Regions from separate parts of the Homo sapiens genome. Here regions 1, 2 and 3 are each linked to region 4. The links come from fine-mapping of genetic effects on gene expression. A gene starts in region 4. Each other region holds a variant in brackets. All regions are shown on one strand. Distances are between the middles of the regions.

What was found.
Region 1: its variant is fine-mapped to the expression of COL13A1 in whole blood (TOPMed, PIP above 0.99).
Region 2: its variant is fine-mapped to the expression of COL13A1 in cerebellum (GTEx, PIP 0.94).
Region 3: its variant is fine-mapped to the expression of COL13A1 in spleen (GTEx, PIP above 0.99).

The regions. Positions count from the first base shown.
Region 1 is chr10:69,834,584-69,841,816 of GRCh38, forward strand. All of the region lies in intron 2 of COL13A1 (collagen type XIII alpha 1 chain), which reads left to right. Among named protein-coding and RNA genes, the nearest start is that of COL13A1, 36 kb to the left of the region's middle. The variant G/A (reference allele first, on the strand shown) is at 4,603.
Region 2 is chr10:69,888,726-69,895,958 of GRCh38, forward strand. COL13A1 (collagen type XIII alpha 1 chain) reads left to right here. Exons shown (of 41, transcript NM_001368882.1): 10 at 689-715; 11 at 5,827-5,853; 12 at 5,950-5,976; 13 at 6,825-6,851. Among named protein-coding and RNA genes, the nearest start is that of COL13A1, 90 kb to the left of the region's middle. The variant G/A (reference allele first, on the strand shown) is at 3,381.
Region 3 is chr10:69,863,293-69,870,525 of GRCh38, forward strand. COL13A1 (collagen type XIII alpha 1 chain) reads left to right here. Exons shown (of 41, transcript NM_001368882.1): 3 at 4,506-4,513. Among named protein-coding and RNA genes, the nearest start is that of COL13A1, 65 kb to the left of the region's middle. RefSeq lists enhancers at 3,565-4,548, 4,549-5,532. The variant G/A (reference allele first, on the strand shown) is at 3,328.
Region 4 is chr10:69,799,110-69,806,301 of GRCh38, forward strand. COL13A1 (collagen type XIII alpha 1 chain) reads left to right here and starts at 2,797. Exons shown (of 41, transcript NM_001368882.1): 1 at 2,797-3,608. The coding sequence starts at 3,315. LOC124902444 (a long non-coding RNA gene) reads right to left here and starts at 2,662. Exons shown (of 2, transcript XR_007062179.1): 1 at 1,937-2,662; 2 at 754-1,027.

The DNA.
Region 1 (7,233 bases), 35 kb after region 4:
TGGCTATCCACATTTCAAAAATGAAGAAACTGAGGCTCAGAGATGTTCAGGGTTTGCCTGAGGTCCACGGATAAGGGACAGAGGCAGGACTTGAACCCAGGACTTTCAATGCCAGCGCCTTTGCCCTCCGGACAAGGCAGAGCAGAAGGGGGGTAGGTTGGAGAGGAAGGGTCAAAGTTCTGTTTGGGACAAGCTGGAGGTTGGGAGGTGGGGGATGCAGGATGCCTCATGGAAATGCTGAGGGCCCTGGAACAGTTCGTCCAGAGGGAGAGGGGCTAGAAGCCCATTCTGAGCTTGTGGACTTAGAGAAGAAAGACCTTACCTGTAGCCATCGTCTGGGGACAATGCTCAGGGAAGTGGCCTTACCTGTAGCCACCTGCCAGCAACACTACTCACAGAAGAGAGAGAACAGGAGTGCATCTTGCTGGAGAGCTGGCTAGAAGCACTGAGGTGGGAGACTTTCTGCCCCAGGACATGCCCAGAGCCCAGGGCCCTGTGCCCCTTCACCCAGGACTCACAATCCTGCCCGCAGCACACATGGGTGCTGTGCAGCTTGTCCCAGGCTGCTGGGGGCAGATGAGCTCCCTGCCCTAGACCCAGTGGAGGGTCCCTTGATCTTGCCACCACCTGCTCTGCCCTGAAGGAGAAGGTTCTGCCACAGTGACGCTAAAGGAATGCCAGATGCTCCTTTGGAGGAAAGGAGCAGCAAGTGGGAAGAGCCCGCGACCTCTGCTTGGGCAGTTATAAGAGACTAGAAGGTGGGACATGCCAGACCCATGGATGCAGTCCCTGGCTCTTCCTCCTGGACCCACCCAGGCTGCCCACTCCCTCGATGACTACCCCCACTCTTGTCATAACCCAGCCAGCCTCTCCCCTGTTACTCCCTGGCAAGTTCCTGTTCAGCCACTAAGGCGACTTGGGTGGCCTCTGCTGGCAGTGGCACTCTTGTCCCCACACACCTGGCCCTCTTCACTGCACCCTCCCACCAGCTCTCCAGGTTACGACTCACACTGCCCTATTCTCCTGATGAGGACCCTGAAGCTCAGAATTCTTTGCTCGAGGATACAGGGTTAGGCAGTGGCAGGGTTGGGACTGGAAATAAGCTCTGAAACATCAGAAGGCAAATGCCCCCCAGGGACCCAAGTGCTACCCTGGAGCACAGTGGGAAACCGAGGACTCGGCAGTGGCCGTGATGCTTGTCCAGGGAGCATGGAGTCAGATAAGGCTGGAGGACATTAATTAGTAATGATAACAACAACATCTATTAAGGGCTTACTCTGCGCCTGGCACTGTGATAAGCACTTTATTGCATTGTCTCATTTGATCCTCATAATTACTTTATGTGGCAGGTACTATTATTATCTCCATTTCCATAGAAGACTGGGGCCCAAAGAAGTTCTGTAACGGGGCCAAGGCCACAGAGCTAGTGTGTGTTGAAGCCAGAATTTAAGTAGTCTGAGTCTGGGCAAACCAGAGCAGCATCAGAAGCTCCCCCTGCCAACCTCTAGCTATCTCTCTCTCTCACTCCCTCACTCCCCACCAAACAGTTTTTGAGCACTGGTTCTGTGCCATGCCCCATCCTCAGGAGACAGAGAAGAGCCCACAGTCCAGGAAGGGGAAACACACGGGTAACTCAGTGGCTGCTGCAGAGACCCAGGGCTCCGGTGGGGCTAGGCGGTGCCCAGTGTGGGCTACAGTCCCAGGGCCGCATCCTCCAGGATTCCAGCCCTGGGAGGCCGGCCCCAATCAAGGCGGGGCCAAGGCAGGGACACAGGTCTAGAACCACACTGTTGGTGGCTTGTGCAGCTGGCATTTGGCCCTGAGACATCAGATCTGGGACTCAGAAGGGACCCCAGAGCTCAGCTGACTCGGCTTCCTGGTGAGAGGCCCTCCTACCATGCAAAGGGGAGCTGGCTATGCACATATAAGCAGGGGAGGGAGGGGAGGGTCAGAGCTCCAGCTGCTCATTCTCTTTCCAGCTCACTTCACAAACTCACTTCCTCCCACCCCTCCAGCCTTTGCCATCTGTCTGTGTGGCAGGTACACCAGGCAGGGCACTGTTGGAATGTCTCCAGTAGGCAAGGTGTGTGGCTGACAAGAGCTGGAGATGGGCAAACCTGGGGCACACAGAGCTACATCCTTGGCAGGCTGGCTCCTCAGCCTCATGGAGACCCTGGGGAGCCTCCTGGAGCTAGAATGAGGACCAAGTATGGGCAGAGGCTCCCTCAGTGCCTGCCTTCCTCTTTAAACCCCAACTGGGGAGGAAATGCCTGCCACAGAAAGATGCCCAGCAGGCGGTGGGGGTATAAGTGGATGCCAGCTTCCCATGTAGTTATGTGAGCTGTCACGGGGTGACCTGGCATACCATGACAGGCCGGAGGGAGGGTGGGGCGGGTCCCAACCTCCCAGGGGCAGCAGGTACTGGGCAGCTGTGCCGTGTGTTCCCGAGACCTGCCTGTTTGTGGTCATGGAGGGGTCTCCATGCCAGGGCTCCGGCTCCAGGGTGCCCAGGGCCCAAGAGCTTTGACAGCCTGAATGTCCTCTTCATTTTCCTATAGGCTTAGAACCTGGATGTGAGTCCTTCTCAACAAAGAACTTACTTTCCCTCGGGGTGTTCGGGAATCTGGACAATGAGGCCCCATCAGCATCCCATGGGGGACCTTACCAATGATCCTGGCTGGTGTCGGTTCTGATTGGTGGGTCTCTGTACGGTTCTAGTTCCAAATGCTTGACCACATCAGCTCCAGCTGTATCATTCTTTGCTCATTGGCACTCAGAGGCACTGGTGTGTCAGCCAATGCCACAGACTCCTGACGCCTTCTGAGGCCAAGAGCTACAGCCAAGCTGGGCACCTGGTTCCGGATTCATCTGTCCATTAGACAGCCTGTCCTTCCTGACAGGTGACACCCCTGCTGTTCATTAAAAGACAGCAAAAGATGCTGCCACAGAAACTGATTGGACCCTGAAGCCACCACCCACCACACAACTATTTCTAGGGATGAAGTCAGATCCAGCCTCTTCTGCGCTTACCCTGGTACATTTTCCCACTGCCTCTTCTCCTCACTTCTGTGGAGGGTGGCAGAATCCCTGGGGAGCTGGAAGTGGGCCTTGACCCTCCTGCTTCATCATCCTCCATGTTGTCCCCCTTGTGGAGTGGCCCCTTAAGGCAGTGGGATCATGTTCCCGTGGAACGGCGATCCTGCCAAATAAATAAATAAACGCAGAGAAGAAGACAGATTTCATTATCCAAAGGAAGCTGAAGCTGGGGCCAATTTCTGATGTTCATTTTAGTGGCACTGTAGTGGGGCTGGATGTTCCTCAGAGCATTTGCCCACCTTAAAAGCCCCCTGTGATGTGACGAGCCACTTTCTCAATCTTGGGAAGCTCCAAGATCTCCCAGCCCTTCTCCAGTGCTGTGGCCATCCTGGTCTTGTCACCCAGTGAACACAGGAGGCCAGGGCCCTGTGGGTTGGTCACCCCTGGACATTCCACCCACAGTGCCTTGGGCAGGGCAAGGTCTGCGCCTGCTCCAAGGCATCCAGGCAGCCCCCTCCTCAAGGGGCCACAGGAGACAGCAGCAGCCACAGCCTTGTGCCTTCCCGGTCCCACTTGTGTCAAAGCTATACAGGCCTAGACAGGATCTGGTAGGAGCCTGGGCTTTAGAGACAGAGCCTAAGGCCGAGAGAAGGCAAGGGGTTCTTCTAGGGTCACCCAGCCAATGCTGGAAACACCTAGACTAACAAAGTGGCAGGATTATCTGCTGGCTGAGTTCTGGGATCCAACTGTGTTACAATGGGCAAGTGACTTGACATCTCTGAGCTGCAGCTTTCTTACCTCTAAGATAGGGATCATGACAACCTCTACCTCCATGCTGTCCTGAGATGAAGGAGATGTATGTAAAGCACGTGGTACAGTACCTGGCATGGGGAGGAGTTTAATCAGTGGTATTGAGCTGCTGGTACTCAGCTCTCCTGAACCGCAGGCCAGGACTCTCTTGACCACCCACATTGCCCTTCCTCCTGAGCCTCTGAAACACCACTACCTTGGGGACCGGCCCTTGCCAGAGGAATTTATTCAGACAGGGGCTCCTCTAAGCTGCTTTTTGACTGCAGCAAATGCTGCTACCTCCACTAAGCCCCTGCTGTATACAGAGCGCCAGGCATGCAGGTATATACAGGCCTTTGTACAAAGGGTTCAGATCCACCTTGGGAAATGGGGTGAGGCGTGGCTTCTGTGCACACTGTGTGGCCCTGAGTCTCTGGGCCTCAGCTCCCATTTTGTAAAATGAGCCTGAGACAGCCTCACTGAGTAGCTTGGCGAAGCCAGTGAGTTCCTGCGTGTGAAGCCCCATTGAAAGTGCGAAGTGGATTGCTATTTGCTACACACGTGCCAGTTGTTATTTTTGCATTTACACAATAATGGACAAGACCTGACCCTGTCTCTAGAAACCCATCCCCTGATTGGGCCTCTGAACAGTGTCCACAGGAAATATTTCACCAGTTATATCCTGCAATCTGGATGTGTCAGCTATGGTATTTGGAGAATGCGATGGTCTTGGAAGCCTCCAGGGGAGAGGTGACCCATTCATTCATTCATTCGTTC[G/A]TTCGTTCGTTCAACAAATACTTGTGAAGCGCTTGCCATGTGCAGTGGCACCGAGCTCTAGTGATATGAGGACCAACCTGACAGAGGTCTTGACCTCTTCCTGCTTCCAGTGTAATGAGAGAAATCAACAAAATAAGCACATAAGGAAATTAACAAGAAAATATCCACTGATTGTTATGAAGAAAATAAATTAAGACAATTTTAAAGGATTCCCCCCACGGCCCACTTTACTGAGGTATAATTGACAATTAAAAACTGTATATATTTAAGGCTGACCATGTGATCCAGGGGATATTTTCGATAGGGCATTGTGGGGGGCAGTGTTATCTGTGAGAAGGTGACATCTGAATGACAAGGGGAGCCCACCACGCAGAGCTAACAGATGATCCTGAGCATGAGAAGTGCTGTGCCTGAACTTGTCACAGCATAAAGCACTAGAAGAGTGTCCATGAGATAAATTGATTAAAGAATTAAATCAGAGGTTGGGGAATGAGCATGCTGGTTAGCAGCAAAAGCCGGTGCAAAATCCCTGAGGTCGGAATGAGCTTGGTGTGTCTGAAGAAGAGAAAGGTCAGAGTGTGGCCAGGTGAAATGAGTGACAGGGAGAGAGCAGAGAGAGAGCTCAGGGAGGGCGCGGGCCAGTCCTGTGGCGCCTCGTGTGACTCTGGCCTGTGGTATTTGTACATTTCACCCTCAATGAGCCAGGAAGCCACAGGAAGGTTTTAGGAGGGGGAGCCACCGGCTCTGGGCTACATTTTCCAGTCCTCTTGGCACCGGCAGAGAATGGATTACAAAGGCAGAGTGGAGAGGAGCCAATAGGTGTCCTGGACAATTGCGGTGTCCAGGTGAGAGGCAGTGGTGACAGAGGAAATGGGGAGAGTGTGCAGATTTTGGGTATGTGCTAGAGGTGACGCTAGCAGGCCTTGCTGATGGGCTGGCTGTCGGGTGAGAGATGGAGAGAAACCAGGCAGAGCTGAAGGCTTCTTGACTTGAGCTGTTGACTGGGCTGGGCTGTGAAGCTGCTGGAGCTGCAGAATGCTTAGCCCAGGTGCTGGGGGTCAGGGGCAGGTTTCCTGGAGAGATGGGGACAGGGCTGGAGGGACAGACAGCGGCATCGAAGGAGCCCGGTGACTCGGTGACTCGGGGTCCTTTAAGTTGCGTGTCCCCCAGCGTGGAGTCCACTTGCTAGAGTGAGCAGTTTGTTGAATTGCTGGTTCCCCTTCCACTTCACCAGCTTAGGAGCAAGAGGGGCTGGATGGAGGAGGCAGAGCCTGTGGCCTGTCTGCCTGGCTGAGGGGGGCCCTCTGGAGTCAGATGTCCTGAGTTCCCCTCCCCACCTCAGCAGCTTCACAGTGCATTTCCTTGCTCACTAAATCCTGAAATACTGGGATGATGGGGCCCCCTTTGAAACTTGAGTGAGGTAAGTTTAGGACAAATTAAAGGAAGTCCTGCTTCTCACAGCAACTTAGGACCTCAGGGGACTCATTACCCTGAGAGGTGGTCCAGGCTGGGAATGTCATGGGATTCCTGAGGGATCTGGGTAAAAGAACAAAATGAGGGGCCCTCAAAGGCCCCTGAGAGGAAACCTGGGATCTGTGTGACCTTTAAGTTGACGTCAGGGAGGAAAACTGGTCTCTTGAGGCTTCTGCTGGCAACAGAGTCGGGAACCATCCTAATCCAACCCAGCGTTCCCCTGCCCCCTGGCTCTCAGAACCCCGGGCGCCAGAGCTGGAAGGGGCCCCAGGCTCTGCCCCATCTAGTCCTTTTCTGTCACTCAGGAGGACACTCCTCTGTCACCCCTCCGCCTGAAACCCTGCAGTGGCGCCAGTGCCTTCACGACCATGTCCAGCACACCCCATCGGGCCCCATCCCTCCCCACTGCCCCCCTGCCCCACTTCCCTGGACTCCCTGCAGCACAGCCAGCCTGGGGCTTAGGAGCAGGGCTCTCATCACCAGGCCTCTGCCCCTGCTCTTCCCTCTGCCAGGAACCCCCTCATCTCCACCTTTGCCTGTTAACTCTCCCTTACCCTTCCGATTTGGCCTTAGTTGTAAACTCCTAGATAGCCATCCCTGATTCCCACCCCTGCCCCCACCTCCCCAATTTCAGGTCACCTGCCACTGCCGAAAGCTTCCTTAGAGCCAGCCCAGCCTCCAAGCATAAACCTATCCCACTGCATCATCAGGGACTAGTTTCACATCTGTCTCCCCTCTGGACAGTTAGCTCTGTGTCTTCCCAGCACCTGGCACGGAATAAATGCTCTTCAATAATCATTTAAGGTGTCAGGCTCAGAGAATGGAATTGCCATGCACAAAATCACAGCATCATTCATGTATCATTCAACACATATTACTGAGCACTCACTCCATGCCATGCCTTTGCTAGGTGCTGGTAACCCGAGGGTGAGCAAGACATGACTTACGGTTCAGTCAGGGAGGCAGCCTCCACCAATTGCCCCAGCAAATATAAAATTGCAATAGCGATCAGCTCCACCAAAAGGCAATGCAAGGTTTCATGAGAAACTAGAAAAAAAATCCTCAAGCGTCCTTGAGCAGAGAGATCTGGCAAGGGAGTAGGAATTGACCAGGTAAAGGGCAGGGAAAGTGTTCCAGGCAAGGGAACAGCAAGGGCAG
Region 2 (7,233 bases), 90 kb after region 4:
CCTCGAGGTCAGGGTCTCCCTCCCCGATTGAGACCCCACACGTGTGCTCAAGTCCACGTGGAGACTGCTTCCCACCATAGCTCCTCTCTTCGTTCATTTCAATCCTTTGGACTTGGTTCCCTGACACAAATGTTCATGGGAGAAAGGAGTCCCCTCCCCAGTCCTAGGAGCAAGTCAGCTGGAAGGGAGCATGACCCATCCAAAGCCCTCAGGGTGGACGGAATGCAGCCCCACTCACAGCCATGCCTGGCCCCGCCACTCGCCTCTCTCAGTTGAGGGACCCTAGCACCACCCAGTTACTCCCCAACTGCAGGCCAGCGAGCTAAGTGCAGCCCAGGGGTGCCAGCAATCATTTCCACTCATGTCACGGGACCAGGCATCCCCCGAAGCTACCCTGGACATGTGAATGGCATGAGCGTTGGGGTCTAGGGAGACTACCCCCACCCCTGCTCTCTGAAGGGCAGGCAGCTGCTAGTGAGGCCCAGCGAGGGGCAGTGAGCAAATGACCTTGCCTTAGGGACTGGGTGAAGGAGTGCACAAGCCAGAAGGTGCAGATGGAGCACAGGGGACAGGGAGGAGCACGGGGGGCAGGGAGGAGCACAGGGGGCAGGGAGGAGCATGAAGGACAGAGGGTGGAACTTCTGGGCTGCGAACAGTGCACCTGGTACTCACCCTCTTCTCCTTCCAGGGCCACCCAGGACCAAAGGGCGACATGGTAAGAGCCCAGCTTTCCTGCCTTCCCGAGATGGGTGGGGGTTGGCCCAGCCTCACAGGCACAGCCAAGCACTGCAAAGTGGGTCCCACAGGGACAACAGGAATGGCTGTCCATGCTGGTCACTCCCCAGCTGTGTAAACCACATGCCCTGGATCCTCACATCAATATGCAGGGAGGAGAAATGGGCAGGGGCTTCTCCATCTGAAGCATGAGGATGGGAGATCCAGAGAGAGTGCACACCTGGCTGGTAGCACACAGAGGTCGGTGTCCAGCTTACTGCTCTCAAACCACACTCGCATGGGCCTTGGGAGACAAGGTTTCATCTGCACTCACAGGGGACACTTTCTCTAGGAGACACCATTTCTACTGAGCCTGAGGTCCCTCAAGGCCTCATAACCCCTTCCGGGTGCTGGCTGTGCCCTGAGCCACCCCAGGACTCCAGGGGTTCCTGCCCCACTGGGGCTGGTGGTGCCCAGTGGATCATCTCAGCTGGGGGTGCCACATGCATCATCCCAAAGGCCCCTTCCCCTCTCCCTTCCTGGGAGTTTCTGTTTGGAGGTTGGGCCACTTGGCAAGTCAGGAGCAGGAGCAAGGTCTTCTCTTCCATGTCACAGCATCCCGCGGCCACCACCCAGATGGATCTGCCCAGGGTACCTGGAGTGCCTCAGGCCCCAAAAAGGTGGAGAGACAACATTTGGCCCAGCTTTCTCCTGGCCCCTACCTTCTGCAGAGCTTTGGAAATAAATTTTCTGTCTCCACAGACCATCCCTTCCAGAAGGGAATGAGGGGCTGCGCACTCTCACGGTGGGCCAGATCTCAGCAGGGACTGATGGGCCATTAAGAGCTAATGGGCCCCTGCTCCCACACTGTGGAGTGTATTTTGGTTTTCAATAAATCCCTGCTTTAAAAAAACAAACAAACAGACAGACAAACAAAACAGCCCTGGGCTGGGGTGCATTTCTGCCTCCTAAGATCCAGGTCGCACCTACTGTGAGGGACCACCTCCTGCTCCACAGGTTGGTGGGCCAGGAATTTGTGCAGGGTGGTGAAAGCAACGCAGCAGGCTCCCCCTGTCCCTGTTCAGTGGGGGCCTGGCTCATGCCTTGCTCCAAGCGCTGGTGTGAAGACAACCCTTGACCCATGACTGGGGCACTGCCAGGGCATGGAGGGAGGCAGGTAATCATGTGGGTGGAAAGGGGGATGGTGGAGTGTTGGCTGCAAGGCCTGGGCTCCAGCCTAGCTCTTCCTAACTTGCCAGCTCCCTCTGGGCCCCAACCTGTCCTCTTGACTCAGATCCAACTAATATTTATTGAGGGTTTGCCACGTGGTTGGCACTGGGCTAAGCACTTTGCATGACTGTCTCAATCCTCAGCGTAACTCTGTGCTCCAGGTCTTGCTAGAATCCCCTTTGACAGGTGTGGAAACCAAGGCTCAGAGAGTCTAACTAACTTGCCTGAAGTCACACAGCTGAATGTCCAAAACAAGATCGAAACACAGTTCTCAAATTCCTTCCCTCCCTTTTTTTATTAAGGTTTTATTACCTTCCTCCCTTTCTGTTTCCCTCACTCTTTGTCAGCCTTCCTGCCACCTTCCTTCTTTTAATGCATTTTTTATGGAGTATCTAAAATGTGCTGGGCACTGCTTCAGGTGCTAGGGATACAGACGGGAGCAAGAGAGAGACTGTTCTTGCCATCTGTAGCTCACAGTCTAGTAGGGAGACATCCTTTTAAATGATCACTCACATAACTAACAAGTTGCTTTGCAATGAGTGCTATAAAAAGATAATCCTTAGTGCCCTGGAAATCTTGGTATAACAAAAACCTCACCCAGGCCAAAGGTCGGAGACGGCTTTTCTGAGAAAGAGACTTTTGAACTAGTGCCTGAAGAATGAGCATTCAACCGAGAGAAAATAGAAAGGGGGATGGGAATGTGCTTTCTGGACATGGGAGAATAGCACGTGCAAAGGTCCTGAGGTAGGAAAATCCTTGACATGTCTGCAGAACCGGAGGAAGGGCACTGGAGGCAGAAGGCCCTGGAGGCAGTGGCAGAAGAGCTGGCGCTGGAATCCAGGTTCCCCAGCAAGGTTTCCTCTCCATCACAGCTGCCTCCGCTGCAAATGCATTTCCCCCCGCCCCTACCCCATTCCCAGGCATGCTGTGCACATGCATGGAGTAGTGGAGACCGAGGCAGGAAGAAACTGCCATGCCACATTGTTATAGAGGCATAAAGGGCTTGGGGTGCTCATCCCTTCAGCCTGAGCTTCTTTCCCTCTCTGGCAGCCTTATGCTACCGTAAGGCAGCCCATGGCCCCCCAGAAGTAATAATAATGGTCATCCTCTAGGCAGCACTCTGTCATCCTCATAACAGCTTATCATCCCCACTTCATGAGAGGGGAAATTGAGGCACAGAGTGGCTAAGTACATTGCCTGAGGCCACAAAGCTCCTAAATACAACAGCTGAGATTCAGACCCATGCAGTGGAGTCTTACCCCTCGATCACACCTCCTCTCAGCAGCCAGCACTTTGTCCTGGAGGAAAGGGACCCTTCCATGGGGCCGCTTTTCCTGCCCTCATTCTGCCACACCGTCCCTCTGCCCCACACACTTGACCGCCTGTCCAGGGATCAGAGCTAACTCAACAGAAAAGGCAGGCCCACCCCCTCTCTC[G/A]TGAGCCCACATCAGTGGGATAGATCCCCTGTCTGCCTCATCAAATCCAGCAGGCCACAGAGCATCTGATTCCTGTTTGGCTTGGCATGGGTACCCGAGCTGTTAGTTGCCCACCGCTGTCCAGCATCATTACCTTGCCCTGCTCTTCATCTGTCTGTCTCCTGCCCCAGATGCTGTCCCCTCCACTGGCGTCCCACTGGGGCACTGGCACTCACCCTCATTGTTTAACCTGTGTCCTCACCTCTCAAAAGGGAGTCACCTCTGCCCCACCCCCCCACTTCACATTATTCCCAAGAACCTGAAATAAGGTGTTGAAGTGTTGGGAGGACACAGTTGTATAATAGTGTAGTTGGGGGGTGGACAAGATTGGGGGTCTGAGACTCAGGAATGACATAAGGGCTGTAAAGCAAGGCCTGGACTGAGTCCAAATCTCACCCACCACCCACAGGGCTGTCGAGTGAGGAGCGCCAGGCACTCAGAACATGCTTGGCACCCGAGAAGCAGACAGGCGCCTTAGCTATGCCTCAGTGGCGGTTAGCACAGGCCTGCTGGCAAGTGCTAAGCACATCACCGGTGGCCATGGCCCTTAAAGGGGCAGGTGCTGCCTGGCTGAAGATAACTGGTACCATGTGTTGTTGGACCTCGACATAATTAAGAGAAACTTGAAATCCAAATTTTTATTTGCACTCTGCTTGCTCTCTTAAGTATTGGCAACTAGTTGAAATAAAACCATGTGGGACAAACAAAATCCCTATGAAGACCACGATTGTCCCCTGGGCCACCGTTTGGGATGTCTGGTTTCAATTGTCCAAGTCTCTGCAGTCCTGAAACTCCGCCTGCCCCTCCCCCATCACACTTATATCTCTGTCCTGACAGAGGATGACCTGGTCACCTGTGGTCTGGGCCCGGGTTCCCTGCCGGATGAATCATGTGCTGCAGAACTTCATTCTAAGCACTCTGCCAGGCCGAGCGCGGTGGCTCACACCTGTAATCCCAGAACTCTGGGAGGCCAGCACGGGCAGATTGCTTGAGTCTGGGAGTTTGAGAGCAGCCTGGGCAACATGGCAAAACCCTGTCTCTACAAAAAAATGCAAGAGTTAGCCAAGCACGGTAGTGTGTGCCTGTAGACCTAGCTATTTGTGAGGCAGAGGTGGGAGGACTGCCTGAACCCAGGAGGCAGAGGCTGCAGTGAGCGGAGATCACACCACTGTACTCCATTCTGGACAACAGAGCGAGACCCTGTCTCAATAAAACAATAAAAGACCAATAAACACTTGGCCAGCCACATGGGCTGGGAGTGCCACATGGATGGTCCCAAAGGCCACTTCTCCCTTCCAGTGATGCTCTTGGGAGTTTCCCAGTTTGGAGGTGGCCCTGTTGGCAAGCGGGGAGCAGGAACAAGGCTCTGGCACATCACAGCATGCTGCGGCCACCTCCCAGATGGACCCACCCTTGGGGATCTGCAGTGCTTCAGGCCCCAAAGAGACTGGTGGCTCAAAGGGACCTGCTTATGGCTCTAGCCAAGTCTAGAAGCCCTGACTCCCAAGGTCTGGCCCAGTTCTGAGCATTTGGCAGTGGAAACAGCTGGACCTTGGCCGTCAGACAAACCTGGGCTCCTGTCCCAGTGCCACCTTTCACTGAGCCATGGGGCCTTGTCTCTGTCACCTCACTCGGGAGCTGGAGTGGACACAAGCATCTCCCTCACAGACACATACCTGAAGAGCCAGCCTCAGGGTGGATCCTCAGCCCATAAGGCATTTGTTTTCTCCTCTTCCCTCCACCAGCCTTGGTGCAGCCTCCTAAGAGAGCCAGAGCATGCGGGGCCCTCCCCAGACAGCAAGGGTCCCTCCCAACCCCAGCTCCTTTCCTAGCCCTGCATGGACAAGACAACCTTGAAGGAAACTTCAAGACCCCTCATATTCCTTGGAGAAGTCCAGAACATGGCTTCAGTTGCCAACTTCCTGCTTTCTCTCTTTTGCTGAAGGTTTCTCTAAGGCCCCCATTGTCTGAGGCACCGGCCCAGCACCCCCAGGCCAGAAGTTCTTCTGGTTCAGTGGGCTTCACTGCAGCCTGGGAGGCAGGAGGTGGAATGTGCTAGTGTCTCCCAGAGGCTTGATGCATGTGAGGTAGGGGGTCCCATGGAGCAGAAAACTCCCTGACCTCTAGGTAGAGCCCCTCCATAGCTGGCCCATGAGATGCTGGTGGTTGGAGGAATGGATGAAAGATGCCATCTGTTCTTCATCACAGCCCTAGTCCTGCCCACTGGGGGGTGAAGCAGCTGAGACTCTGTGAATAAGACATCTTGAATGTGGTGGGCATGGGAAGACCTGGCCATGGCTGGTAGAGCCCAGCCTTCGGGATTCAGCCCCAATCCCCACCCAGGCAGGTGTCCCTGATTGCCTGTCTTCTGTCTGCCCACTGACCTGTGTGTGTTTGCTTCCCACAGGGTCTGACGGGTCCCCCAGGACAGCCGGTTGGTACCTCATCCATCTATTTCCCAGCAGAGAAGCTTCCGGTGGCTGTGACCTTAGCTTTGGTTTCTAACTCTCTCATCTCCGTCTCTTTGTAGGGACCCCAGGGACAAAAAGGAGAAAAGGTAAGAGCAGTGGAGGTTTCCTAGAGTCTCCATCTCAGGAAATGGCCTCCCAGTTGGTAGAAAGGGGTCAATTATGGTTATTTTCAAACTTCAGTTTTAATTGACAGAACCAGGAAAGCCCCCGAGGTGCCGCATAATAGATTCGGTTGACACCGCTCCAGGGGACATCCTTTTCTTGGAGTGAGGGGTCCTCCTGGAGGCTGGTCCGGGTGACATCCTTTCCAGGGGTCCTCCTGGAGCCTGGCCCTCTTCAGCCTCTTTCTGGGCCCCTCCCAGCTGTCACTCCATGGTGTTCCCTGACACCTCCATGAGCCTCTGGGATTCTGAGAGGCATCAACCTGTAAACCACTGGCCTGGCCTCCTGCCCTCTCTGTCTTGTTGAATTTCTGATAGAGACACTGCTGTGCTTGCCCTTGGGCCGCTGGTACAGGGGCCTGGCGCTCCCAGCTCAGAGAAGGTGGCTTGGGACCCCCATGGTGCCGGCTGCTCCCATCCGGTGGCTCCTGTTCAGGGCTGTCTGGTGGGCCTGCCTAGAGGGTCAACCTTTCGCCAGGCATGGGGCATAACTCCCGACTCTGCCATTATGGCAAGTGGTATAAGGCGAAGCCCCACCCCTAGGCTCCCTGGGGCCACTTCCAGGCAGGCCATGGAAGTTTCTTCCCTGCTGCTAGCCAGGGGCAAGGGAGGGACTTAGTTCTTCTGCCTCAGAGGGCTCAGACCAAAACTAGAGCAGGAGGGCTGGTGAGCGGTGACATGTGTGGCATGTCCTGAAGTGCTGGGGGTGCCCTGAGAAACAGGTACCCCCAACAAGTGCCTAACACCACCTTTCCCTTCCCTCTCCTTCCCAGGGTCAGTGTGGAGAGTACCCACACCGGGTAAGTGAACCCCTAAAATTTAGCAGGGCACTTTGATCCATCCCTGGGGCACAGCGCCCAGCTCAGCCTCATCTCCCTGGGGTCTCCAGTTACTAACAGATCATGGGGGAGCAGGAGCACCCACTGCCCTCTGCACTCAGCAGTCAGAGAGGGGAGCTTGGGATGGTGGTGCGTCTGGTGGGAACAGCTGATGTGTCTCTCCAGCCATGTGCTATATGGAGCCGCTCATCACCCGTGCGTGTCTGTACATCCGCCCCTTTGTACGTACGTCTGACTCGGTATGTTGGAGTCTCCTGCTGTGTGTCTGGAGCTCTGTGGCTGCTCTGCACATGGCCCCCTGTGGCAGCGTGACTTGTGTGAGTCTGTTTGACTCCCCACCCAA
Region 3 (7,233 bases), 64 kb after region 4:
CCCCGAGCTGAGAACCCCTGCTCCAGCAGGCAGAGTGTAACCAATATCATTAGTCACCCAAGGTCTGAGGGGAGCCCGTGATGCACAGCACCTGTCCTGGCAGAGATGGGTGGGTCGGGCATGTGGCAGAGCTGGTGGCAGGTGGTCAGCTGCAGGCACCAGGAGGCATGGGTGGGGGCTAGGACCCCAGCTTCTAGGAGCCCAGCGGTCAAGCAGGGTCAGAAGATGGTTCAGATGACACTGAACTTGGGAGCACCCTGCCACTCTTGATGCCCCCTGTCCAGGACCAGGACTGGATCCAGCGACTGGGTGGCACCAAGTCCAGGGTCGAGGGGGAGGGGACTTACCTGACCACTTTAGAAGGGGCTGAGGGCCCAGCCGCCCCTTCCACCCCTGAGAACTTCATGACCTCCAGCCAGGAGAACACAGGCTTTGCAGCAAGAGAGACCAAATTCAAATCCAGGCCCTACCATATGGAAATAAAAGTTAAACAATCAACTTAAGCCAGGCATGGTGACTCATGTGTATAATCCCAGCACTTTGGGAGCCCGAGGCAGGCAGATAGCTTGAGCTCAGGAGTTTGAGACCAGCCTGGGCAACATAGTGAAACTCCATCCTTACAAAAAATACAGAAATTAGCCAGGTGTGGTGTGTGGTCTCAGCTACTCGGGAGGCTGAGGTGGGAAGATTGCCTGAGCCCAGGGAGGCTGAGGCTGTAGTGAGCCGTGATTGCACCACTGTACTCCAGCCTGGGCAACGGAGTGAGATACTATCTCAAAAAATAATAATAAATTAAATTAAATTAAATTAAAATTTTTTAACCTTAAGAATCAGATGCCATCATCTAAGAGCAAGGTGACCACCTTAGGCAGGTTGCTTAACCTCTAAGCCTCAGGTTCCAAGTCTATGGAAGGGGTGATAATGCCAACTTCACAAGGTTGTTATAAAGACAAAGTGCGGTGTTATAGTTACCATGCTTAGCACTGTGTCTATGTCTGCCGCATAATGAGCACTCAGTAAATGTCGATTGAATGAATGAAGGAATGAAAAAATGAATCCTCCTACAGCAAACCTTTCTCCCTTAAACCCTCATGTTTGTTTTAGTTCTCATCACTGGAATTTCTCCAGCTTTCTAACATAGGAAACTGTTGGCTTCTCAGCGGGAGGAAATGAGTTATTCATCTCTGTATCATCAGAGCTTTGCATCAGGCCTGGTAGATAATAAATGCTTAAAAAAATGAAGTTTTCCTTCCTCAGAGGACAATGAGTATACTTTATTCATCTTTAGAGAGCCACAGCCCAGCACAGTGACTCACACAGTAGGCATTGTTAAGTGTTTGTTGAATGAACGAACATACAAAAAGTGGTTGAAAAAGGGCACGACCCAGAATGCTACCCCAGAATTCTTCATGGGGGTCCATCCCTATGTGTCCATTTTGGGGAAGCATGGCCGCCTTGCTCGGAAGAGGTGGGTCAAACCCCGGCGGAGAACGGTAGTGGCCTCAGCAGGAAGCTGAGGCAGTGCGTGACAGACATCAGCAGGGAGGTCTCAGGCAGAATGTCCCCACCCTGGATGGCTGTTGTGACCCTCTCCTGACAGCCCTGCTTGCGGGCTGCTTAGCCCACCTGAGGGGGCTGGGACAATCTTCATAGTTCTCCCTGCTGCAAGAAACAGGTTCCTCCTGAGGAAGCAGCAGGTGCATGGGCGGAGTCCAGGTGTCTTCCTCCTCTCTCAAAATGTGGTAGTACGGGCAGTACCTCAGCAGGATCAGCATGAGATATGGTGTGCTCTGTTAGGAAGACCCCAGGATGGGGAGTCAGGAGACTGAATGCCGGTCTCACCGCCATCACCTGCCCACAACATGGCCCTGGATGGTCATGAATCTCCCTGGGCCTCTCTCTCTCCATCTGTACTGTGGGGACTTGGTAATGCCTTGGAGTGACTCCATCCTTTGGTGCCTGGCCAGGGTAATGGGCACAGCCAAGTGGCCCACATGGGAGAGCAACTAGTGACATCAAGGCACTGCTAGATTTTGCAAAGCCATCAGCTCCCCAGCATCTTAGAGCTGCCAGGCATTGAACACAGCATCAGGGGAAGCATCTGCTTGGAAACCCAGGGCTGTCCCAATGCAGGCCTGTTTGATGAAAATTGGCAGGGGCAGGACGGGAGTTGGGTTTTCCAAGGCACCTGAAGATTTTCCAGTGGGTCTCATGAAGACCATCCCTAACAGGGGAAAAAAGGTGTGTGAGAGAGAAAGTCTTCTTTTATAGCACCTGTATAGCTCTTCCCCTTCTATGGCACAGCATTAGCTCACAAAGAGGATTTTCCTGTTTCTGAAATCCCTGTAGGGGACAGGTATGGGTAGTGGCAGCCTGGCTGAGCTTGGAAGAGCCAAATTCCCTTGCATAAGACAAAGGTGCCTGTAAAAGACAGATGAGAGGGTTGAGTCTAGAGAAGGGGGCTGGAGGCTGACCATAACAGGCATCCCAGGGGCAGGTCTGGAGAGGACTTGGTCTGCAGGCAATTGCAGGGTGGGGGGTAGGTTGCTTTCTGAATGAGAGACAGAGAGAGAGGCACTGTAGAGAAGGGTCCAGAGCTCTACCATTTACTAGCTGCATGGCCCTGGGGAGTCGCTCAACCTTCCCATGCCTCAGTTTCTTCATCCGCAAGGCGGGAATGATAGAACCTATTGCATAATGGAAAACCCCTCGAATTGTGCCTGGCACCTAATAAGGACCATAGAGGTGTATGCAGTGACAATGGTGGTGGCAGTGGTGGTGATGTAAAAACCCTCAAAATCTTCAGTAGAATTTATATCCTCCAGGGGTGCACCCAGCAAACTGCTCCTCCTGCTACCCAGCTGAGCCTTGAGTCTTGTGCCAGCTACCTGGCTGCATCTGGTGACACCTATGCAGCCGAGAGTGCTAACAACAGGCCGGGCTGCCCTCAGAGCTCCAGTCTGTGTCACTGGGGACATCTCAGAGCTCTAGCCTGTGTCACTGGGGGCATCACCAGAGCCTGCCACAGTGGGAGCCAGGGCCCCGTCAGGCCTGGCAGGCGCAAGGCATCTGCCCTCCATGTGGCTGAAGCATCCCAAAATTGCCACAGGCTGAATTTTGTCACCAGCCTGCTTCTCATGCAGAGGACATCTCCCCCAGCCAGGAGGCACAGATTTCCCAGCTAAGCTGGCCCCTCTGGCAGGCTGCGCTCAGGGGATATTTTCAGATTCTGGGTGACATTCCTCTGCCACTCAGCCTAATGGCTCCCAGATGCTCCCCCTGCTCTGTGCTCCCTCCCGCTTGTTCTGGGCCCTGCATGCAAGGCCC[G/A]GGCCTGGGGCTTGCTCACCCAGGCTCTACACCTCTTGACTTTTTCTGTTGCTTTTAATCTAAAACACTGTGTTCCTCCTTAACGTGATGGCTTGACAGAGGCCAGCATGAAAGAGGCTGTTTCCTCCTGGATGGTGACCAGGGCAGAGAAGCCGACAGATAAAGGAGGAGAGAAGGAAGCCGGCTCTGGGAATGGGAGGAGCACGGGGAAACATAGGAGCCTTTATTGGCCGAGCATAAAAGAAGCAACAGGAGTCGCAGCTGAGTTAACGTGGCCAGGGCACTAGGGGCCGGGCAGACACACCAGGCCCAGCTGGGAATCACCGGGAGGGTGGGGTTTCGTGGCTCATGTTCCGCAGAAGCGCCTTTCCTTCCCTATCTTTCTGGGACTGCTTTTCTAAACCTTCCCTCCCGCTCCCCACCCCTATTCCTTTTTTCTCCCTCTCGGAACACTTGAATTTGTCATTCTTGGCTGTTGCCAGTAATGAGATAGGGCTGCTGCTGCGGCCGTGGGAGGGAGGTGGGGAGTGGACACCAGAAAGAGAAAGGAACAGAGAGAGGCATGGAGGAGGGTGGGGCCGGAGCCCGAGAGGGGGCTTTGAGAAAGAGGCTGTGGGTGGCAGACCCTGGAGGGGTGAAGTGCCTAACTCACTGCTAAACAGAAACCAGGACGGGCCAATGGGCCTCAGGCAGGGTGCACAGTGGCCATCCACGCCCGCCCCTGCCTGCCTGCTGGCCCTCCCTGACGTGCACAGTGAGGACACGGGCATGCTAACGGTCCTCATCTCTACGGGATCTGTTATTTCCGCCTTTCTCAGTGTGCCTCGCTGCCCACTGTCCCGTGTTCTGCAAAGCAGCCTTGTACACAAGTTCAGGCAGGTCCCGTAGAGCCCGTTTTGTGGGGTGGGAAACTGAGGCAGAAGGGCCACCGGCAGGTCCCCAGCAGGGCTGAGCCTGGGGCCTAGACCTCTGGATTTCTCATCCAATTATGAAAATATGGAGATGAAATAAAGGGGGAAGAGATTATATTGGTGAAAGTAGGCCAGGAAAAGACAAACTTCGAAGACCAGATGGAAACCCCTCCGCTGATGAATCCTTGGACACTGCTTCCAAGGCGGCCTCCCCACCGCCCCCTACAGCAATGACACTGACCCAGGCATTTTCTCTCTCTCTTTCAGGACCTCCTGTAAGTACTCAAGCCGAGGGTCTCGTGCATCTGAAAGGCCTGTGTCACCTGCTGGTAACGGGGTTCTGGGTGGGGGCACTGAAAGCTGGGCCCCTGCTGTCTTGTTGGGGGCCTATGCAGGCTCCTGAGGGGTCCCTCCAGAATGCCTCTTGTGGGGAGGAGGCTACCATTTTGCTTTTCACCCACTTCTGCACCCCTCCAGGGCAAGACAATGGCTGCCCCCAGGGCAAAGCAGGCCCCAAATTTCAATATGAAAGAGTGGCTTTCCCTCTAATTAGCTCAGTTCCTTTGTCCCCAAAGAAGCTATTGGAGTCAAAAAAAAAAAAAAAAAAAAGCACCAGGTATTAGAAGAAAAGAAATCATCTCTCCTCAGTTCTGCCCCTTGAAAGGTCCCAGAAAACAGGTCATCGAGCTGGCTGCAAGCATGGTCTGCTCCAGGGGACTCACATCCACACCCCTGAGTGGGGCAGCTCCATTCTGGCCACTTTGGGCAGGTGGTGGTGGTGGCGGCGGCAATGGTTATGTAAGAGAGAGCGGTGTCAGCCGGTTAGACTGGGAGACAGCACATAAATTATAGGCATCATGCCGCACTCCTTCCTGGCCTTGCTAGGAAGCCCAGGGTGGGGCAGGGAGTGGAGCCACTTCCAGAGAACCTGAGAAGAGCCCAAGGAGACTGCCTCCCTCAAGTAATGGATCCAGAGAACAGGAGCACCTGCCTTTGATATCCCAACAAAAGACCAGAGGGCGCTGGGGGAGCTGGAGATAGGAATTGAAAGGGCCCAGCCCTCGCATCAGATCTTTCTCAAGGTTGCTGAAATCAACCCTATCATCATCCCTTCCTTGGAGAAGTCATTTCCATAGTTGTTTTCCTCTTGATGTGTACCTGTGGGAGCCGCCTGCTTCATTTTTAGTAAAGGCCATTATCGAAGACTCCATTTGTGCCCTGAAAGGCCCTTGCACCCACACTGAGGATCCCATGGCCCCTGACACATCACAGTGAGGCAGGACCTGTCATGTCATTACTTGAAAGGAAGGATAATGTATTATGGCACGTTTGGTGTGTCAGATCTTAATTCCTATCATCCATCTTCCAAAATAAACTCTGCCATATAGAGCTTTCACCTGTGGGAAATGTGCTGCTTTTCCCTGTCTCATTCTGAGGAAGCCACAAGAGCCCTCAACTGCCCCCACCCTGCCTTGGGGCCTCCTGCACACACCTCACCCCCAGGGGCAGGATGCTGCAGCCTCCTGCACACACCTCACCCCCAGGGCCAGGATGCCAGGACAGCTCTGAGTCCCTGCCTGACTTGAGGGTCCTTTCCTCAGTAGGAATTTTGCATTCTGAGAGCTTGTGCTGGCCCGACCCAGGGACTGTTCCCAGACCCCTTTGGGTCTGTGCTGAAGGAGCCCATGAGGTGGAGGGGATGAGTCTTCACTCAGTCTCTGCCCACAGAGTGAAGAAGAAAGGCCCAGGTAGCTTTCCCCACATTCTGAGCCCAGCTCAGAAGAGGAGCCCTGAACCTTTGCCCAGTGCTGGCTGAAACCACAAGGCAGGAGGAGGAGGAAATGGGAAGCTGGCCAGGGCAGGAATCACCTCCTCAGCCCTGTTATCTCTGCTTCCTGCAAAAGAAGAATGCTGGTGGCCAGAGAGAGGGGCTCTGAGATGCCTGTCTGATGCCGTCTGGGTGTATCCTGGGGGCTGGCTCTGTCCTCCAACAGGAAGACCCAGATTTCTGCGGGCACAAGGTCGGCCAGTGCCTGAAGAACATAACTGTGCAGGATGGATTAAAGCTGCAGCAGGAACCATTTAGGTGGAAGTAAATTTTCAGCTACCACTGCCCCACCCATCATGCCCCTGGCAGACATTGCTAATCAATTAGGAGGCTTTTTAACATAATGCATTAGTCAGTTACTCCCAATCCATTGGCATCAGTGCTCAAGCTGACATCTATTGGCCATCCCTGGATTCAATTTAAGGGAGAATTTCCTAATACTGGGAACTATGAGACTGAAAACAGATGACCAAGGGAAGTAGGGATGTATCTTTCTCTGAAGGAATATAGGGAAATATTTGCCAGCAGCTGCCAGGCCTTGCTGAATATGATCCTTGCTGAAATAGTAGCTAACACTTACTGTGTGTTAGACACTGTTATGTTTTTATGGAGGCAGTGTAACATAGTGATTATGAGCATGGGCTCTGGGGCCAGACCAACTGCAATCAAATCCTGGCACTGCCACTTTTTGCTGTGTAACCTTAGCAAGTCACTTAACCTCTCTCTGCCTCAGTCCCCTCATCTGTAAAATTAGAACAGTAATGGTGTCTGCTTCATATGGATGTTGTAAGGTATATGTGTGTATGTGTGTGTACTGTATATATATATTTTTTTTACTTAGGATATATTAATTCATTTAATCCTAAAAGCATAAGGCTTCCCTAGATGATGCCCAAAGGTGTTTTGCAAACCTTTAATTTTTTTTTCTTTTTTAGAAAAGAAAAGAAAAAACTTTTTTGGGTGAGAGAGTGAGAGGCAGGGTCTCACTCTCTCACCCAGGCTGGGGAGCAGTGGTGCGATCAAAGCTCACTGAAGCCTCAATCTCATGGGCTCAAGTGGCCCTCCTGCCTCAGCCTCCCAAGTAGCTAGGACTACAGGCGTATGCCCCCACACCTGGCTAATTTTTTTAATTTTTTTTTTTTTTTAGAGACGGGGTTTTGCTATATT
Region 4 (7,192 bases):
GCTGTATGCCTGGGGCATTTTTTCTTCATTTTTGTCTAGGTGTGTAACCAAGACCACAGTTTAAAATCAAAGTCTTTGGGTTAGCATTGGAGGCCCTCTTTCTTCTTACTGCAAACAAGAAAATCTATTTCCTGGTGTTTTTCTTGAGGCATCTGAATCCCCCCCCTTTCTTCTGGGAGCCCTGAAGCACCTTTTGTGGTCTTTACATGTTTTGTGGATTTTCGCTATTCTGCCTTTTGTGGCGGTTTTATGTGAACATGACTTGTCTTCCTTAATCAACTGTTTTTAAAGCTCCTGGAAGGCACTCTTTTCACCTCAGTGTCCCCAGGTCCTGGCCCCCACCTATGAAGAAAGAAGGGTTCAAGATAAGCCACATGAGGCTGTAACTTGTGCCTGGGGTAGACAATGCTCTACCTGAAAGAAAAATCTCCCAGGGCAAGAATTCTAAGCAGTGTGGGAAGAAGAAGAGGGATACCTGGGGATCAGGCCCCTCAACACAAGCTAACTCCTGCTGCTCACAAGCTGCTACTCTCAGCTGTCAGGTAGGGAAAAAATGGAGGTTAACTGTGATCCATTTGCTTTCTCTGGGATGGAAACTTCTTCCTGTTTCACAACTGGGAGCCCAGAGCTAGCTGTGTCTGAGATGGCCCTAGCAGCCATGAATTCCAAAGAAGGAGCCGATGCCCTTTATTGAGTGCCTGCCCTGTGCCAGCACTGTGTTCACTGCTTTACATACATTACCTCATTCAGTCCTTCCAGACGGGTAGATACTTTTATTATCAGCCCATCTTACAAATGAGAAAACTGAGCCTCCGAGATGTTCAGCAGCTTCCACATTGACAAAAGGGAGATTTACACCCAGGTTTCTCTGACTCCAGAGTCCCCCTGGAAGCTCCAGGGTTTGCAATGCTGGGGCCAGGTCAGGCTAGCGCAACACCCTCCTCTTTCAGTTCCCAATCACAAGGATGCTCCAGCTCCAAACTGTTTAGATTTCACTGCCTGAGCATTCCTGAGGGCCTCCAAAGTCCTGAAAGGGAAAAGATCAGTTTGCAGAATAAGGAGGGAATGAAACTAACTCCCCACCTCAGTTCCTCCATTCAGACTAGCCTGGGAGGGGAGTGGGGGAAGTCCAAAGTCCCTGAATTTCCTGGCCTGTACCTCCCAGTGCAGAAACTCTCCAACGCCCCCTGGTGTTCTTCAATACCATCCAAGTCTCCCAAGGATTCATTCCTCTGTAGAGTGGACTGGGACATCCCATCACAGGGATGGAGAAAACAGAGTGCCCTTGCCACTGAAGCCATCAGGAGAATCCTAGAACTGGAACTGGAACCCAGAGCTCCTGGCCACGGGCTCTTTCAGCAGCATCGCCTTCTATTCCTGTTGTCCTCCATAGTGGCTGACTGGCCCAGCAGTCAATGTTACCTTTATTACATATGATCTCAGTACTTACTATGTTACAAGTCCAATATGCACTATTAAGTGTGCCACACTTTATTAGAAGTGCAGTGACACTGTATTATATATCAAGTTCCATCAGGTCAATATAGAAAATGGGAAGTTTGTACTGGCATGCCTTGTTATTTTGAAATGGAATCCCAGCACCACTGCTGCCCCCACCTCCACTGCATATTTGAAAACCCAGTCTACTCTCCTCTGCCCGCTGTTCCAGGAAGACAGGCTTTCTCCCAAAAACTCAGTCCCACCACCTCATTCACAGGAATGTCAACAGGCACAAGGAGATAAAGTCTCTTGGGATACAAATGCTACTTAATGTGGGGGGTGGAGGAGGTGACAAGAGAAGAGAGAAAACTACCAAATGCCCTTCAGGCCACCAGTTTTTCTCTAGTGGAATATAGGAAATGACAACAGGAGAGAGCCTGGTTAGCCCTAAGCCTCCCGCAGGGATGGAACCTGAGTTTGTGTAGGAATTGCTCACCTTTGATGACTGGGATGATTGAGGCAGGCTGGTCTCACCACACAGGGATAGATGGCATGGGTCTCAGATTAATGGCAGGCAAGAAGGGGAGATGTCAGGACTGGCAGGCGGCCCCAATGAGCCACCTCTCAGATACCTGGAATAAGATCTCCTCCGTTTTCAGTGTCTCATACTACCTCAGGTCTTGGTCCTGAGAGGAAGGGCTGCCAGCTCTGCTGCCCCCTGGAGGGCTGACTTTTCACCCCAGAGTAAAGATGTGGTTGGCCGCCCGGCACTGGAGGAGCTGCAGATCTCAGGAGGTACAGAGCCCCCGGGGAGTCGGTTGTCGGGGGAGAAGGAAGGGGAAAGAGGTTGGGGGCTTGGGAGTAGAGGAGCGGTGGCTGAAGGGATCAGGTAGTCCTGATCAGGACGTGGAGATCCACCCACAAGCCCTGACAATAACTCAGTCGAGTTCCTGGAGGGTCTCAAGGGCTGGGAAAGGTGGAGTGGTGCCTGCCCCAACGCGTCCATGGAAGGTGGTGCCCGCCTCACCGCCTCCGTGGAAGGCCAAACGAGCCCTCGGTGTGAATCCGGAGAAAGAGAGGGAAGTGCAGCGCCAGCTCCACTCCACACCCCCTTCCTGCCTATAAATAACCCCAAGTGTCACTTCAAAGAGGACGGGGAGCGCGGCAGAGGGGCTCCCGGGCCGGCGGGCTGGGGCCGCCGGACCTGCTCACCACGCCCCCCACCCTGGGCGAGTTTGCATAAATAAACAAATCCAAGCCGTCGGCCCCGCGGGAGGTGGAGGAGGAGTGACGAGGAGGAGGAGGAGGAGGGAGGGGGGAGGGAGAGATTAGTTTGGGAAGTAGCACGGATTGCTCATCCGATCCGTGCCGCCGCAGGGAGTGTGTCAAGTTACAGAGGCGCCGGAATCGGCCCCTGCGCTCCTCGCCAGCCGCCACGACCCACCTCTGCCCATGGGGCCCTCCGTGTGCGCCCCTTCGCCCGGGGACTGAAACTGACTGGCCCGGGAGACACGAGGCGCCCAGAAGGACTGACAGCGCGGCACCAACTGCTCTGCAGACACTTGAAGGGAAAGACTGGGCGGAGAGAAGGAGAGCCGGTCAGATTCCCCTAACTTTCCTGGACTTGGAACGTTCTTCGAAATAACTTTTTTCTCACCTAGGTGTACCCCAATTACCGCTGGTTGTGCTTTTTCGGCACTTCCTCTCCTACTGCTAATTTTTCCGTCCTCTTTGCCGGGAGCAGCGGAAAGGGACGTTTTCCAGCGATACAAGCCCTTTCCCCCTGCCCCGCAGTTTGGATAGAGCCTTTTGGCAGCGGCTGTCGCCTTTATTTATTCTATTTATTTATTTATTGGTTCTCAAGACGCGAGAGGATGGTAGCGGAGCGCACCCACAAAGCGGCAGCCACCGGTGCCCGCGGCCCTGGGGAGTTGGGCGCGCCCGGGACGGTGGCTCTGGTGGCGGCGCGGGCGGAGCGCGGCGCACGGCTGCCGAGTCCAGGGTCGTGCGGGCTGCTGACGCTGGCCCTCTGCTCGCTGGCACTCAGCCTGCTCGCCCACTTTCGGACGGCCGAGCTGCAGGCCCGGGTGCTGCGCCTGGAAGCGGAGCGCGGGGAGCAGCAAATGGAGACGGCTATTTTGGGACGAGTCAATCAACTGCTGGACGAGGTCTGTGCTCTTTGTTGCTGGCTTTTATCCCTCCCCGCGGCGCCCCCTCGCGCAGCCTCCAGACTGTTCAGCCGGTGTCCGCGGGCGCTCGCTCTCTGCGAGCCCCAGGTTCGCGCGAGTTGCCTGCGGGAGGGGTCGGGGACACGGACAGACGCTGCCCTACCAGGGATTCGGAGGACCTGGTGGGCAAGAGCATGACCCAGCGACTCCCGCCTCGGGCAAGCGCCCCCGGCTTCCAGCGCTGGGAGCGCCCTGGGCACGCCGGGCAGGTGGAGGAAGGCTGGGCGCGCGGAGGCTCGCGGAGGCGGGCAAGCTCCACTCCTCCCTTTCGGGACCCGGCCAGGGTGGTGTGACAGCCGCCCCGCGCCCGCGCAGCGGCAAGCGCGCCCAGAGGCCCAGGCCGAGGCTTACTGAGCCCCCATGGCCCTCCCCCTCCACCCCTTAAGGACCCGGGGGGTGCGGGGAGAGGGGACAGTTCTTGCAGGGGGTGGTGCCCTGGTCTCTGCTCACTGGCCCAGGCCGCTAGGGTCCAAGTGTGGGTCGCCTGGCTCTGCTGTCCTTGGCCACAAATTAGTCCACACCTTCTTTTTCCTAAACCAGGTTTCTTATTTTTCTGGAGAAAGGATGCTTTCTTCCATTCTCCAAATTTTTTTGATCCAAGTAGATTAAACACTACTAGCGTGTCAGGTAGCTATGGCAATCTTCGGAATACAGGAAAAGGCTGTCCCCTCCCCAGGAAGGAGGGACATGCAGCCTCTTTGTGCCACCAGAGGAAAGGCTGGGCCTTGACAGGGTGAGGCTTGATGATCTGTGGGAATCTGGACAGCACAGGGGATTCAGGGCCCAGATAGAGAGGAGGACAGGCAGGTGGGGGCCGCAGCAGTCTGGGAAGAGGTCCTGGAGCAGGTCCTGGCCATGGAAGGTCCTGGCCATGGAAGGTTTCCATGGGGAAGAAATGGGAGAGGATATCTTACTTAGCTGGAGGGAGTGTGCAGCAGTAAAGATCACGGTGGTAGAGGCCAGCAACCCTGGGTTTTTATCCCCACTCTGCTACTTGGAAGCTTGGGACAAACGCTCCAACCCCTCTGAACATGCGAAACAGTGCTGATGTAGCAAACACTGGAGCACAGCTCTAACTGTGGTGGGTGGGGTGCTGTGAGCATTTTGGCAAGATGTACCTATTCCCTATAGCCAGGCTCTTCTCAGCTGCCCCTGCCAGGCTGGCACCTGCTGGAGCAGTTCTCCAGGGTGGCCAAGGAGGAGATTGCAGGGCCAGAGCAGAGAGAGCGGTCACAGGGCAAGCGTACTGGTGCTAGTGGTGCACCCATGACTGCTGCTGTCAGCTCATTCCCACGCCCTGCCAGGCTCCAGGGAATCCGGAGAACTCCATCGGGCCGTCCATGGTTCCCTGGGCCTGGGGTGGAGGTGCAGCATCTCTGGGCTCAGGCAGAATGAGCCCAGACTGGCTGGGTGGTGAAGAAGGTGTCAGGGCAGTGAGAGCTCCTCCAGGTATCTCGGGGGTCCTGGCTGCTGAGGGATAAGCATCTGATTTTCAGGGTTTAGCACAGCCCCTCTCTCCATGCTTTCCCCTTCCCAGACCTTCCTGCTGGCCTGACCATGCCCTGGCCTTTTCTAGCTTCTTGCTTCCACTGCTTCAGACTTAGACATGCCAAGTCGCATACTCTAGGGGCCTTGGGGCTAACTATTGTATCCGACATGCTCACTCCTTCCCTCCAAGCTGCAGCTCCATATTTACCCTACTGAATACAATCTTTTCAACTGCTAGATATGAAAGTTATCCCAGAGAGCATCTGAACTGAACCCCATTTTTCAGATGGGGAAGTTGAGCCCAGAGTCACATGGCGAGGCCCAGGACTAGAACCTCAGCCTCCTGGCCCTGTATACAATGTTCTTTGCGCTGTATCCTGCCACCTTTTTTTTTTTTTGGCCTATTCTCATTCATTCATTCAGAAAATGTTTACTGAGAGCCTGCTGCGGGTCAGGCATTGTGGGAGACACTTTTGCCCTCCTAAACTTACATACAGGGAAGTAGTGCACAAAGAAGAAAATGGGCAGTGACCATGTCGTGTGCAAAAAAAAAAAAAAAAAAAAAAAAAAAAAAAAAGCTACAATAGTGAAAAAAGAGAGGGGCCTGGGGAATGCATTACATGCAACATTGTCTGATGGTGGTGGCAGTCATGGCAGGCTTCCTTAGGGAAATGATTTTCAAATGAAGAGCTGAAGGATGAATAGGAGTTTGCCAGGCAAAAGCGGGCGAGTGTGAAGCCTTGTTCTAAGGGGACAAACGGAACAGCCTTTGAGGCTGGGGGCCAGAGGGAATTGGGAGAACTGGGGGAAGTCCAGGACCCCGGAGGACTGGGAGTGTGAGGAAGTAGGAGATGTGGCTGGAGAGAGACGGGCAGCCCAGGTCAAGAGGGGCCTTAGAGAAAGTTAGATCTAAATAAGAGTAATGGGGAGCCATTGAAGGGTTTTCAGGAAGGCAGTTATGCCCCTAGAGTGAGTGCTTACGGCTGGCAAAGCAGTAAGGCCAAAAACAGAAGGCTGCTGCAGGCCAGAGGGGACAATGAATGGGGGTAAAAGTAGGGTCAGAGAGGGGTGACTGGAAATGGTGGCTGAGGTCAATAGGGGAAGATGCTGGAGCCAGAGGAAGGGAGCTGTCCCACAGGTGGATGGCGTGAGTGGCCTTATCTGTGGGGGCCTTGTCTGTGCTCCTGGAGGGACACCCTAGGGTTGGGCTGTCCAATACAGTAACTGCTAGTCATATGCAACTCATTATATTTAAACTAACTAAAATTAAATAAAATTTAAATTTTAGCTTGTCTGTTGCAACAGCCTGGTTTCAAGTGCTCAGTGGACACTGCAGCTAGGGACTATGGAGCTGGACAGTAGAGAGAAAGAACTTGTACATCCTCGCAGAAAGTTCTATTGGCCAGCGCTGTGCTACGAGCAGCTTCTGGGCCTGCAAAGCAACTTGAGGGGACCATCCTGGGCCTTTCCCTGTGTAGGTGTGTTCTCCCAGGTCTGAGCAAAGGTCTGAGCAAAGGGCAGAGGAGAGCAATGGGTAAGGCAGAAAATTGGGACAGGCAAAAACCTGCCACAGGACAGGAGAATTCAGAGACAAGAGAGGGGAAATGGTTTTGTTACAAAACAATTCTCCAAAATGGAGGTGCAGAAGGTCCCTGTCCTCATGGGGCACACACAGGCATCTGGTGAGTTTGGAGGCCAAGACCAGGATTCTAGCTGGGCTTTGCCAGTCTTGTGGCCTTAGGCAAGCCATGCTACACCCCTGCACTTCAGGTTCATCTTCCATTAAATCTAGGCCCTGCCTCCCTCCTGGGATTGGAGGCAGATCGGAGACTTCACTAAAAGGTGCCATCACCAAAGGCCATGCACAAGACCAGATGAGTGCTCAGGGAGGGCCCTTAGGGATCTGGGGCAGGCAATCTTTGCAGCAGGCAGGACTGGGCCACTTCCTGAAGAATGGGAGAAGGACACTGGGGAGGGCAAGCCTGGTGAGGCACACGGCCTGTGCAATGGCCTGGGGGTGGGACTCCCATGCCAAT